Linked DNA regions of Homo sapiens. The protein of the gene in region 2 interacts with the protein of the main gene of each other region in a biochemical or structural test. Each region holds a gene or a part of one and is shown on either strand. Other genes may lie near its edges.

What was found.
Region 1: of the proteins of CTNNB1 (region 2) and GSK3B, one has a biochemical effect on the other in vitro, tested with the Homo sapiens proteins (11 studies listed by BioGRID and IntAct).

Annotation. Positions count from the first base shown.
Region 1 is NC_000003.12:120,091,428-120,098,811, reverse strand, and holds the start of GSK3B (glycogen synthase kinase-3 beta), read left to right. Parts: upstream 1-4,364; 5' UTR 4,365-5,377; coding exon 5,378-5,465; intron 5,466-7,384. UniProt on the Homo sapiens protein: Constitutively active protein kinase that acts as a negative regulator in the hormonal control of glucose homeostasis, Wnt signaling and regulation of transcription factors and microtubules, by phosphorylating and inactivating glycogen synthase (GYS1 or GYS2), EIF2B, CTNNB1/beta-catenin, APC, AXIN1, DPYSL2/CRMP2, JUN, NFATC1/NFATC, MAPT/TAU and MACF1.
Region 2 is NC_000003.12:41,223,487-41,230,509, forward strand, and holds part of CTNNB1 (catenin beta-1), read left to right. Parts: intron 1-534; 5' UTR 535-582; coding exon 583-595; intron 596-703; exon of another isoform or gene 704-835; intron 836-1,039; coding exon 1,040-1,267; intron 1,268-1,467; coding exon 1,468-1,721; intron 1,722-1,847; coding exon 1,848-2,086; intron 2,087-2,173; coding exon 2,174-2,375; intron 2,376-3,721; coding exon 3,722-3,866; intron 3,867-7,023. UniProt on the Homo sapiens protein: Key downstream component of the canonical Wnt signaling pathway.

The DNA of each region.
Region 1 (7,384 bases), about 79 Mb from region 2:
GTGATGGAAAGTAATTTACCTCCCCTCTTCTTTCTTCATCTTCAAATCCTACTACTCCTCCTTTAAGATCACTTTAGATTGAAGTGTCCTCCACTCACCTATTATAAATAGGAATGCATGGGCAATTTATTTTAAACTTTGTAGTAACAACCATATTAACAAATTATAGGCCAGGCATGGTGACTCACGCCAGTAATCCTAGCGTTTTGAGAAGCCATGGCACGCAGATTTTGAGCCCAGGAGTTTGAGACCAGTCTGGGCAACATGGCGAAACCCCATTTATACAAAAAATACAAAAATTAGCTGGGTGTGGTGGTGCACCCTTGTAGTCCTAGCTACTTGGGGGGCTGAGGCAGCAGGATCCCTTGAACCTGGGAGGTTGAGGCCGCAGCACTCCAGCCTGGAGGACAAAGTGAGACCCTGTCTCAAAAAAATAAATAAAAACCAAATTATGTTCTGTCTCATAACTTTTATCAATTCAAAATGTGATTTTTATAATTTATTTAACTTTTCATGTAGTTGCTTCCCTAGAGGGTAAACTCCCAAAGGACACTGATCCTCTCATCCACCTTATATCAGATGCCTAGCAGGTGTCTCAAATATAATACTTACTCACTATTGTCTAGTTTTACTATTTTAACTTATATGACAAAGGATTATCATAAAAATTTTCGTTGGAAAGCTTTGCTGAGAAATGTGAATTTTTTTTAAGAATTCCATTGTAATTAGAGGCTTCTGAGGGACATGTGAATCATAGTGAAGAAATAATATAAATGTTATTTTTTGGGCCAATTCCCCTTAAAATCAAACACAGAGGTGGGGTACAGTGGCTTACACCTGTAATCCCAGCTACTTAGGAGGCTGAGGTGGGAGGACTGCTTGAGCCCAGAAGTTCAAGGCCATAGTGAGCTATGACTGTGCTACTGCACTCCATCCTGGATAACAGTGAGATTAAAAGATAAATAAAAGTAAAAAAATAGAAATTTATTATAAAAATACTAAGCAAAGACATTTAAATATTTTCATTTATATTTAAATATGTTATTGACGAGTTATTCTAATTTGTCTTCCTTTCCAATCTTGATCCAAATGTACTTATATTTTACAGATTGGAAATATGGTAGATATACAACCTGAAGTTCTATATTTTTCAATTAGTATTGTTTCCTAAACATATTTCTGAGTTACTTTTGGTGGTTGTATTTATTTTTACTGGCTGCCTAATATGGAGTTAATACAGCATAGTTTACTTTACTCCTCTATTATCCTGTGATATTTTCCTTTATTTTCTCTTGGCCCACATCTTAGACATTACATAATTTCAAACTATCTCAAGGTCTCCAAATACCTTGTTAAACATTTCAGCCATTGCATAACCTTTTCTCTTTGCCTGGAATGTTCTTTCCTTCCTTATCCATCTGTACAACTGTACAACTATTCTTTGTCTAAACTAGTGGTTCATAAACTTTTTTTTTTTTTTTTTTTTTGAGACGGAGTTTTGCTCTTGTTGCCTTGGCTGGAGTGCAATGGTGCGATCTCAGCTCACTGCAACCTCCACCTCCTGGGTTCAAGCAATTATCCTGCCTCAGCCTCCCAAGTAACTGGTATTATAGACGCCCGCCACCACGCCCAGCTAAGTTTTAAAGTTTTAGTAGAGACGGGGTTTCACCATGATGACCAGGCTAGTCTTGAACTCCTAACCTCAGGCGATCCACCTGCCTCGGCCTCCCAAATTGCTGGGATTACAGTCATAAGCCACCACTCCTGGCTTGTCCATAAACTCTTGATCTTGAGCTAACATGATATGCACATTATAAGATACACACAGAAATAAAAAAAGGATTAAAGGTGCACTATTTTAAAGATAAATTTCAACCGGCCCGGTGTGGTGGCTTACGCCTGTAATCCTGACACTCTGTGAGGCTGAGGCAGGCAGATCACCTGAGGTCGGGAGTTCGAGACCAGCCTGACCAACATGAAGAAACCCCGTCTCTACTAAAAATACAAAAGTAGCTGGCATGGTGGCACATGCCTGTGATCCCAACTACTTGGGAGGCTGAGGCAGGAGAATCACTTGAATCGGGGAGGCGGAGGTTGCGGTGAGCCGAGATCGCGCCACTGCACTCCAGCCTGGGCAACAAGAGTGAAACTCCGTCTCAAAAATAAATAAATAAATAAAGATACATTTCAATTATTTAAGGTCCCAAACCATTTTGTTTTCACCCTCCTACTGCTATCGGGCCCCTAACAATTATTAACACTTTTTCCAATGCCTCATTGGCCAAGGGATGTTTTTAGGTTGGCCTGCAGGGTTTGAAAATTTGGTTACCAACATTTAAAAATGCAGAGATTTCACACAAAAATCCAATTTTGGGGTTTCTTTTGGGAGGAAAAAAATTGAACATCTGAGAACACTGGACCCACATTCCTGAGGGCAACAATCTGCTAGAGTTGAGCAGCTGTTCCTTTTAGTTATGGCATGGATATTCCAATTTGCCATTTTCCCTATCATTCCCCATTGTCTTACACAAGGCCAGTCTCACTCATTTGCTTTACTTGTCTGGCCTCTGTAGCCATTTGAATCTGCAAACACTATCTAGACCTTTCCTGTCTTCCATCAAAGCTTACTTTGTTCTGTCCCAAGTCCTTCATCAGTGTTTCAAAGCAAGAGCCAGGTAATCTGATCAAATATAGGTCCTTTAACATGTGCTTTCTGGAGACAGCATCTTAACAGAAAGAGATGACTCTGCAGGTAGAAATTACAGGCACCACTGGATTACAATCAGGATGGCAACTGTCTGTTCTACTTTCTCTGTTATCTTGACGTAGCCATACCTCACTGTTCTAAAGCAGACCAAAGGAACTGGTTCTATGGTAGAACAATGGACGCTGGTCTTATGTATGAAATCTTCTCAAGCTGCACTTTTATAGATCACCCTAGTTCCAAAAGATCCAAAGCTACCACGGGCTCCTCTGACCCCCCCATTTCCTCGGAGGCTTCAGGATATCCGGCCTGACGGCATTTCCCCTCACCTGCTTTCGGGGCCCGTTTTGCGCTGGGCAGTTGCGCCCAAGGAGCGCGCGCATCCAGCATGAGCTCATTTCTCATGGGCGTTTCCAGAGGCCCGGCCGGGCCGCGCACACCAAGCGCAGCAAGCCTCTGTATCAATGGCCCCCGCGGCTGGGCGGGGCGCGGCCGCCCAAAGGCGCTGCCTTTCTGGAAGCTTTGTTCCCATTTTAGCGTCTGAGAGCTTGCAGCCGGCTGGGAAGGCCCCCTTGGTCCGTCTGGCCCTTTCGGGGAAGAGGCCAACACTCGGCACACGCGATCCACGGCAGAGGGGAGCCTTGGGCGCGCAGAATTGGCTGCGCCCCGCCGAGAGCCTCCTGTGGGTGGGGAGAGCCCCTCCACCCCTCTGCTCGCTTGAGCGCTCAGAGCCCAGGGCCGCCGACCGCAGCACTTTCCGATTTGCTGCACCGAGGGCCCGCGGTCCCTGTGTGCGGTTTCCACCGTTGTTGGAGGCGGCCGCAGGCGAACCGTCGGGTCGTCAGCCACGACCCGAGTCAGGCATCTCCCCGCTCCTGGGACCGGGGCCGAAGGCCAATCACACTGCAGCTAGGTCTTGCGATTGGACGGCAGTGAGAGCCGATTGGCCGCCGCCGCGAGTTTCGGGCTCCCTCCCTCTCCCTTTTGCCCCAACTCCAGCGCCTAAGCTTCAGGCCAATGAGACAGCGCTTTATAGACGCCCTCCCTTCGCTTTCTTCTCCCCACCTTGGAGAGGGAGGGGAAGTCCTGACTGGCCAGACTGTCCTCGGAAGCCCCCTTCTCTTCACCAATCACCGAAGGAGGTACGCTCCCAGCGGAGTTTTCCAGCCAATCACAAAGCGGCGGCGGCGCCCAGCCGTGCAGTTTCACCAGCGTCTCTGGGTTTCACCGTCCTCAACTCTTCAAGCCTCTTCGTAAGGGCCGGCGACTCTGATTGGCCACTGTTGCCATTGTCGAATGTCTCCTCCAGCCAGCCACCGAACAAGGCGAATTCACCCTTTCCGTTCGGCTACCTTCGGCATTTTCCGCTCTTTGGGCGTGGCTTCCCAGCGTCACTTTCTAATTGGTTTCTCAGGCTGATCGGCTTTTTCCGGGAGGAGCCGCAAACAAACGACGTCCGTGATTGGCTCCGTTCGGGCTTCGGCTCCCAGCCGAAGCGGGCGAGCGTGGGGCTCGGCCGGCGATTCCCAGACGCCTGTTACGCGGGCGGCGGGGCGCTGGGCGGTGTAAGGCTGGGTGGGGGAGGAAGGAGGTGGAGGACGAGTAGGAGGGGGGAGGAGGAGTGGGGAAGTGCAAGGCGGCTGCGCAGACAGCGCTCCTCACACAGAGCAGCTCCTGACCCGGGCGAATGCGGGCTTGTGCCGCCGCCGCCGCCGCCGCCGCCCGGGCCAAGTGACAAAGGAAGGAAGGAAGCGAGGAGGAGCCGGCCCCGCAGCCGCTGACAGGGCTCTGGGCTGGGGCAAAGCGCGGACACTTCCTGAGCGGGCACCGAGCAGAGCCGAGGGGCGGGAGGGCGGCCGAGCTGTTGCCGCGGACGGGGGAGGGGGCCCCGAGGGACGGAAGCGGTTGCCGGGTTCCCATGTCCCCGGCGAATGGGGAACAGTCGAGGAGCCGCTGCCTGGGGTCTGAAGGGAGCTGCCTCCGCCACCGCCATGGCCGCTGGATCCAGCCGCCGCCTGCAGCTGCTCCTGGCGCAATGAGGAGAGGAGCCGCCGCCACCGCCACCGCCCGCCTCTGACTGACTCGCGACTCCGCCGCCCTCTAGTTCGCCGGGCCCCTGCCGTCAGCCCGCCGGATCCCGCGGCTTGCCGGAGCTGCAGCGTTTCCCGTCGCATCTCCGAGCCACCCCCTCCCTCCCTCTCCCTCCCTCCTACCCATCCCCCTTTCTCTTCAAGCGTGAGACTCGTGATCCTTCCGCCGCTTCCCTTCTTCATTGACTCGGAAAAAAAATCCCCGAGGAAAATATAATATTCGAAGTACTCATTTTCAATCAAGTATTTGCCCCCGTTTCACGTGATACATATTTTTTTAGGATTTGCCCTCTCTTTTCTCTCCTCCCAGGAAAGGGAGGGGAAAGAATTGTATTTTTTCCCAAGTCCTAAATCATCTATATGTTAAATATCCGTGCCGATCTGTCTTGAAGGAGAAATATATCGCTTGTTTTGTTTTTTATAGTATACAAAAGGAGTGAAAAGCCAAGAGGACGAAGTCTTTTTCTTTTTCTTCTGTGGGAGAACTTAATGCTGCATTTATCGTTAACCTAACACCCCAACATAAAGACAAAAGGAAGAAAAGGAGGAAGGAAGGAAAAGGTGATTCGCGAAGAGAGTGATCATGTCAGGGCGGCCCAGAACCACCTCCTTTGCGGAGAGCTGCAAGCCGGTGCAGCAGCCTTCAGCTTTTGGCAGCATGAAAGTTAGCAGTGAGTATTGGTTTTATTTTACACCCCTTTTCCACCTCGCCCTTAAAATAAGAAACCTCGAAATACCAGGATCTGAAATTATTAGACCTCCTGATAAACAGGCAATGGAAAAGGGCAAAACCTATCTTCAGTCAAGGATGAAGCAGCTCCCTTTTTACTCCTCCCATACCCCCTCCCCCGGTCTCATTAACCTTGAATTGAGATAATATGATATTTATTTGGATGATTCGATTTCAAACTGCTTTCTTGTACTTTTCTTGCTGTTGGTAGTCAGTTTCATCAAGTGCTCGAGTGTTTCCACGTTAAAGTAGTGATGACAGTGTTTACTTGCCCATCCTTTAGAATAAAGAGAAGGACAAGATTTGATTACTAAACCATTATGCACATTTGCAGAATTTTTGGAATTTGGAATGAGAGAATATTTTAGGTCTCAGGGGTTATCATAGTTTGATATACTTAATAGAGACGTTAAATGTCCCACCCTCCCAACATTTTTTTCTTGTTTGTATGACTACACATAATATTTGTTCTTAATCTGTGGATGAACTTCCTCAGTAACCATTCACATTTGGAGGCTGCCATTGATTTCTCTCTTTAGAAGGGACTAGTGGGAGCCAATAAATACCTAGCAGCAGTAACATCTCTGTATGCATTTGTGTTCAATTGGATAAGTGGTTTGATGTGTTATCTCTTAACCTTCCTGTTTTGACATTACCAACCTGCCACCGTATAATTTATGTTTAATCAAAAGTTAACTTGGAAGTATTAATAGGTCCAAGTTTTGATTGAGATTTGTTTTGTCATAGTGCCAAATACTAAGTTAAATGTTGTCACTGGCTCATTACATTTAAGTTCAATTTTGGAGTGCTACTGCATTCATTACCTGTTAAATGTTCTGGCGGGTTCCTTAAAAAGGACGATTTAAAACACTCTAGCGTTAGTTTCCATCATATTTAGATAACTGTGGATTTAGTTAGAAGAATGTGGATTTAGTCCTTTCCATTTTGGCTTTTGCAGATGGCTATGGTCCTAGAAATAATAGGGATATTTGGGCTGTGTTCAGGGTTGTGGATAGACTACTCTTGTCCTGGGTTTGTGCTGAAAAGTATGCTCTTGAAGTGTTTAATATATACTAAGTATCTAATGTTCCAGTGTATCTCTATTTATGGAGAAGTTCATGTGGTATTTAATGATAGCTTGTTTAAACATACTTGCAGAATTTAACAAAAATATCTATATTGTTTCCTTATTGTGGGAAAGAGGGGCATCATGAGGGCAAAGACAAATTAATTTGTTGCCTAGAAGAACTGAGAGAACTAAAGAACTGAGATTTTAAGAACCCACACACACGCAAAACATGATGTTATGTGAAATTGATTATATTCTTAGGCAACATAAAATGATCACTTTTAGTTGAACTCAAGATTTCAATTCATGTTGGCTTTGGGAACTAGCCTGAAACAGGGTAGTCTAGGTAATAGCTGAATGGGAGATAATTTTTGAAAGTTAATTTTTTTTTTTTCTTGTGGCTTGCAAGTAGAGAATGCCCGGGTAGGTAAAGAGGAAAGCTGATTATGCATCTTTCAGGGAAGGGTCGTGCTTTCTAAGCACTTCATGGAGTGATTTGAAAAATATTTTAAAATTCCGGGGTAATTTTCAGCTATGATGATACAAATCTTATAATAGCTACTTAAGAGCCTCTTGTGGTACTGGAGTGTTTGTATGTTTTACATCTTGGTAATATAGTTTGAAAATCAGTCAGTCTATTTCAGCTAATTGATTTATTAGCTTTATTTCAGAGATCTGTAATGCTAGATTATAATGCTACATTTTGGGACTTTTCATTTTCTTTTCAGGATTTTCTTTGAAAATGACTCTTGAATTCTTGGTAATACAGATACTAACTAAGGATGGAGTAA
Region 2 (7,023 bases):
AAAAATCTAAAATTCGCTATTCTAGTCACCAAAATTTGCTTTATGAAAAATAATTTTTGATGGCACTATATCAGAAAACAACTTGTTAAAGAAAATGTGGAGTTTTTAAAATCCCACTGTACCTCTGTTATCCAAAGGGGATCTGTGAATTTTTCTGTGAAAGGTTAAAAAAGGAGAGACCTTTAGGAATTCAGAGAGCAGCTGATTTTTGAATAGTGTTTTCCCCTCCCTGGCTTTTATTATTACAACTCTGTGCTTTTTCATCACCATCCTGAATATCTATAATTAATATTTATACTATTAATAAAAAGACATTTTTGGTAAGGAGGAGTTTTCACTGAAGTTCAGCAGTGATGGAGCTGTGGTTGAGGTGTCTGGAGGAGACCATGAGGTCTGCGTTTCACTAACCTGGTAAAAGAGGATATGGGTTTTTTTTGTGGGTGTAATAGTGACATTTAACAGGTATCCCAGTGACTTAGGAGTATTAATCAAGCTAAATTTAAATCCTAATGACTTTTGATTAACTTTTTTTAGGGTATTTGAAGTATACCATACAACTGTTTTGAAAATCCAGCGTGGACAATGGCTACTCAAGGTTTGTGTCATTAAATCTTTAGTTACTGAATTGGGGCTCTGCTTCGTTGCCATTAAGCCAGTCTGGCTGAGATCCCCCTGCTTTCCTCTCTCCCTGCTTACTTGTCAGGCTACCTTTTGCTCCATTTTCTGCTCACTCCTCCTAATGGCTTGGTGAAATAGCAAACAAGCCACCAGCAGGAATCTAGTCTGGATGACTGCTTCTGGAGCCTGGATGCAGTACCATTCTTCCACTGATTCAGTGAGTAACTGTTAGGTGGTTCCCTAAGGGATTAGGTATTTCATCACTGAGCTAACCCTGGCTATCATTCTGCTTTTCTTGGCTGTCTTTCAGATTTGACTTTATTTCTAAAAATATTTCAATGGGTCATATCACAGATTCTTTTTTTTTAAATTAAAGTAACATTTCCAATCTACTAATGCTAATACTGTTTCGTATTTATAGCTGATTTGATGGAGTTGGACATGGCCATGGAACCAGACAGAAAAGCGGCTGTTAGTCACTGGCAGCAACAGTCTTACCTGGACTCTGGAATCCATTCTGGTGCCACTACCACAGCTCCTTCTCTGAGTGGTAAAGGCAATCCTGAGGAAGAGGATGTGGATACCTCCCAAGTCCTGTATGAGTGGGAACAGGGATTTTCTCAGTCCTTCACTCAAGAACAAGTAGCTGGTAAGAGTATTATTTTTCATTGCCTTACTGAAAGTCAGAATGCAGTTTTGAGAACTAAAAAGTTAGTGTATAATAGTTTAAATAAAATGTTGTGGTGAAGAAAAGAGAGTAATAGCAATGTCACTTTTACCATTTAGGATAGCAAATACTTAGGTAAATGCTGAACTGTGGATAGTGAGTGTTGAATTAACCTTTTCCAGATATTGATGGACAGTATGCAATGACTCGAGCTCAGAGGGTACGAGCTGCTATGTTCCCTGAGACATTAGATGAGGGCATGCAGATCCCATCTACACAGTTTGATGCTGCTCATCCCACTAATGTCCAGCGTTTGGCTGAACCATCACAGATGCTGAAACATGCAGTTGTAAACTTGATTAACTATCAAGATGATGCAGAACTTGCCACACGTGCAATCCCTGAACTGACAAAACTGCTAAATGACGAGGACCAGGTAAGCAATGACATAGCTAGCTTTTTAGTCTGCTTTGAAGTAAATGCTCAAGGGGAGTAGTTTCAGAATGTCTACCCAATACCAGTACTTGAAAACTAACGATGTTTCTGAATTCCTGTATTACAGGTGGTGGTTAATAAGGCTGCAGTTATGGTCCATCAGCTTTCTAAAAAGGAAGCTTCCAGACACGCTATCATGCGTTCTCCTCAGATGGTGTCTGCTATTGTACGTACCATGCAGAATACAAATGATGTAGAAACAGCTCGTTGTACCGCTGGGACCTTGCATAACCTTTCCCATCATCGTGAGGGCTTACTGGCCATCTTTAAGTCTGGAGGCATTCCTGCCCTGGTGAAAATGCTTGGGTAAGAAAACATGTCAGAATGCTTGAAGCTAAAAAGTAGAAGAGTATACTCACAATATTTCTGATGAGGCTTTTTTCTTCTTCCCAGTTCACCAGTGGATTCTGTGTTGTTTTATGCCATTACAACTCTCCACAACCTTTTATTACATCAAGAAGGAGCTAAAATGGCAGTGCGTTTAGCTGGTGGGCTGCAGAAAATGGTTGCCTTGCTCAACAAAACAAATGTTAAATTCTTGGCTATTACGACAGACTGCCTTCAAATTTTAGCTTATGGCAACCAAGAAAGCAAGGTAAGAGAATTATTCTTTATGTGGTTTTCATGGAGCATTGGACACCTCCAGTGTCATGTCATTCCATGCAGTGTTCCTAACCTTTTTGGCACCAGGGACCAGTTTCGTGGAAAACAGTTTTTCCATGAATGGGTTGTGGGAATGGTTTCTGGATGACACCATTCCACCTCAGATAATCAGGCATTAGATTCTCATAGGGAGCGTGCAGCCTAGATCCCTCGCATGTGCAGTCCACACTAGGGTTTCTACTCCTATGAGACTCTCATGGTGCAGTTGATCTGACAGGAGGTAGAGCTCAAGCCAGGTAATGCTCGCTCACCTGCCACTTACCTCCTGCTGTGCAGCCCAGTTCATTTCTGTTCTTTTAAATTTTTGAGTTTCCATATGTAAAGCACTATGCGAAGTAGTAGGGATATGGTAGGCAAGCTTCTCTTCACACTTTTGTTCTTAGGTGGGATGTAGATGTTGGGAATAATAACCTAATATTTAATTTGTGTAGTGGGAAGAAGTGGGGCTATGAGGGCACATAACACAAGTTGAAACTGACTCTTTTTGAGGGTTCAAGGAGACCTCTTGGAGGAAGTGATAGTTGAGTTCAGTGTTCAAGGATGAGAAGGGATTCACTAGGTGAAGGTTAGGTGAGAAAACAACATCTTTGAAACGAAGGAAGGAGATGGAAAGTTTTGGGAATTTAAGAAATACTAATAGTAAGGAGGAAGAAAGGTTTGAGGTGAGGCTATTGAGATAGACTTAGCAGATCTCATAGGGCTTTGTAGAGCATGTTTAAAAGCACAATGGGAAATTTCAGCAGAAGCCTGAAATGATGAAATTTGTTTTTAGAAAATTGGGGCAGTGTTGAAAGGGAAGATATACAGGGAATGAAAGGACAAGCATGAATGATCATTTTATGGTATCTGTTTTTAAGGTGGATATAATTAGGAAAATTAAAGGGCCAAATGATGAGGAGTTAAGTGCCAGTTCTGGTTCAAATTTTCAGTGAATCAGTTTTGATATAACTTTCATCTTAGGGCATTACTCTTGCCTACCAACATAGTTTCTAAATTTTTTTCTTTTGGTGTGATCACTGTGGGAAGAAGGAAATTGGGCCCAAACTGATACATTGTTTGGAGGACTGGGATGTCTGAATTTGAGTGGAATGCTTTAAAAGGACAAGTTGGATAGGGCCCCAGTATGGGGGTCTGAGTGATGGGGTCCAGGAATACATTTAGGTCCAATGGCAAGCTGGCTGAAATTCTTGTATAATAAAATAGGTTGGTAATATGGCTCTTCTCAGACATGTGATCAAGATTCCTTGACTAACAAGATATATATATATATCTTTCTAGCTCATCATACTGGCTAGTGGTGGACCCCAAGCTTTAGTAAATATAATGAGGACCTATACTTACGAAAAACTACTGTGGACCACAAGCAGAGTGCTGAAGGTGCTATCTGTCTGCTCTAGTAATAAGCCGGCTATTGTAGAAGCTGGTAAGTATATGTATCTATTCTGAGTCTTGTGTATAGCATCTGCAGTTCTAATTAGATTACTTTTCTTAGGAAAAGGTGGTAGAACTTTAACTACTGAAAATAAATGGTCCTATTCAGTTTGCAGCCAAGATTTACATTCAGAGTACCTGTCATCTGGATTGTAGCTAAATATTTAAGGCTAGTTTAGGTAGAGTTCTTATTATCCATCAAAAATGATGGCATATGTTTTGCTTAATAAAATTTGTTTGTAATTTCAGTTTTGAGTAAACCTAAGATTTGCTAACAGAGCTGTGAATTTATAGGAGAAAAGACAAATTCTAATATAGTACAGTTTTATGTAAAGTGATTGCTTTATTAGTAGATGCTCATGAGCAGTTTTTGTTTTGTTTTAACTTTTAGGTTCCGGGTAATGTGCAGGCTTGTTATATAGGTAAATTGCATGTCACAGGGGTTTCGTGTGCAGATTATTTTGTCACCCAGGCAGTAAGTATTGTACCCAATAGGTAGTTTTTCAGTTCTTTACCTCCCACCCGTAAGTAGGCCCCAGTGTCTGTTGTTCCCTTCTTTGTGCCCGTGTGTACTCAGTGTTTACCTCCCACTTATAAGTGAGAACATGTGGTATTTGGTTTTCTATTCCTATGTTAGTTTGCTTAGGATAATGGCCTCCAGCTCCATCCATGTTGCTGAGGAAGACATCTTGGTATTTTTTTATGGCTGCTTAGTATTCCATAGTATATATGTACCACATTTTCTTTATCTAGTCTACCATTGATGGGCATTTAGGTTAATTCCATATCTTTGCTATTGTGAATAATGCTGCAGTGAACATATGCATGCATGTGTCTTTATGGTAAAAAGATTTCTTTTTCTTTGGGCATATACCTAATAATAGGATTGCTGGATTGAATGGTAATTCTGTCAGGTTTTTTGAGAAATCACCAAATTGCTTTCCACAATGGCTGAACTAATTTACTTTCCCACCAGCAGTGTATAAGCATTCTCTTTTCTCAGCAACCTCACCAGCATCTGTCATTTTTTGACTTTTTATTAGTAGCCATTCTAACTGGTGTGAGACGGTATCTCATTGTGGTTTTGATTTGCATTTCTCTAATGATCAGTGATGTCGAGCTTTTCTTCATATGTTTCTTGGCCACTTGTATGTCTTCTTTTGAAAAGTGTCTGTTCATGTCCTTTGCCCACTTTTTAATGGGGTTGTTCTTTTTTGCTTGTTAATTTAAGTTTATTGTAAACTCTGGATATTAGACCTTTGTCAGATGCATAGTTTGCCAGTACTTTCTCCCATGCCAGTACTTTCTCCCATTCTGTAGGTTGTCTGTTTACTCTGTTGATTTCTTTTGCTGCGCAGAAGCTCTTTATACTGTCCCATTTGTCAGTTTTTGTTTTTGTTGCAACTTCTCTTGGCATCTTCGTCATGAAATCTTTGCCAGGTCTTATGTCCAGAATGGTATTTCCTAGGTTATCTTGCAGAGTTTTTACAGTTTTAAGTTTTATATTTAAGTCTTTAATCCATTCTGAGTTGATTTTTGTACATCATGTAAGGATGGGGTGCAGTTTCAATCTTGGATGTGGCTAGCCAGTTATCCCAGCACCATTTATTGAATAGGGAGTCCTTTCCCCATTGCTTGTTTTTGTTTACTTGTTAGGTGTGCGGCCTAACTTCTGGGCTTTCTTTTCTGTTCCATTGGTCTCTGTGTCTGTTTGTATACCAGTACCATGCTGTGATTGTAACCTTGTATTAACAGTATAGCTTGAAGTTGGGTAAAGTGATTCCTCCAGTTTTGTTCTTTTTGCTTAGGATTGCCTTGGCTATTCAGGCTCTTTTTTGGGTTCATATGAATTTTTAAATAGTTTTTTTTTAATTATGTGAAGAATGCCATTGGTAGTTTGGTAGGAATAGCATTGAATCTGTGAATTGCTTTGGGCTGTATGGCCATTTTAACAATATTGATTCTTCCTGCCATGAAATAGAATGTTTTTTCATTTGTTGGTGTCATCTCTGATTTCTTTGAGCAGTGTTTTTTGTAATTCTCATTGTAGAGATCTTTCACCTCCCTGGTTAGTTGTATTCCTAGGTATTTTATTCTTTTTGTGGCTTTGGTAAATGGGATTGCATTCTTGATTTGGCTTGCAGCTTGGATGTTGTTGGTGTCTAGAAATGCTTCTGACTTTTGTACATTGATTTTTATATCCTGAAACTTTGCTGAAGTTTATTGGATCAAGGAGCTTTTGGGCAGAGATTATGGGGTTTTCTAGGTATAGAATCATATTGTTTGCAAACAGACTTCCTATTTGGATGCATTTTCTTTCTCTTGCCTGATTATGAGCAGTGTTTTGCCCTGATATTCTGTATTCTCAGTGAATAGATGTCGTCTAAGTATGAGAAACAATTTTTTTCTATTCTGAGTATTTTTAAGAAGGCAACTTATATGTGGTACTTTGTATATTGTGTATGTTGGCAATTGGGGAAAAGAATAGATGGTTTGTACTAGGGCCTCTTGGGTTCTGTGTGTGTGTGTGTGTGTGTGTGTGTGTGTCATGAAAACAGTTACTTTTTAGCTACCAAGCATTTTTTCTCCTTTCAGTAACCCACCTAACAACATTTACTCAGAATTTCAAAGCAAGCTTCAAATCAGTATTGAAAGAAGGAAAAATATAAAGGCATTTAATGGAAGAAAATGTTGGGAATAAAGTATAGGGCTGGCAACACTTACTTTTCTCACTTATTGAGAGTAATTTTACTTGGGAATTTATGAGAGAGAAAGACATTATGATTGCTCCAGGTAACTACTGGCAGAGGAACCATAGTCTTGGGGATAGACAAATGTGGCTGAGTTCATATAGAATGAGGGGATGGGATGTAAATTCTGTCAGCTGTTCCAGCAGTAACCTGTAATGTAGGCTAAAAATACAGATTTTGAGATTTATTTAATCAGAATCCCTGGAGTGTTAATTTTTATATCAAGATCTCATAGTGTTTTATTTGAAGTGACAGGGAGGTCTGTAGATAGCTGGACATGTATGGGACTGGAAGCTTAGGAATCTTTAAGTTCTTCCAGGTTATTCTTATGTTCATTTGTTTATTCTGAAAATAGCATCTAATGTATTTTAAGAAATGGAATAGGCACATAGTATACAT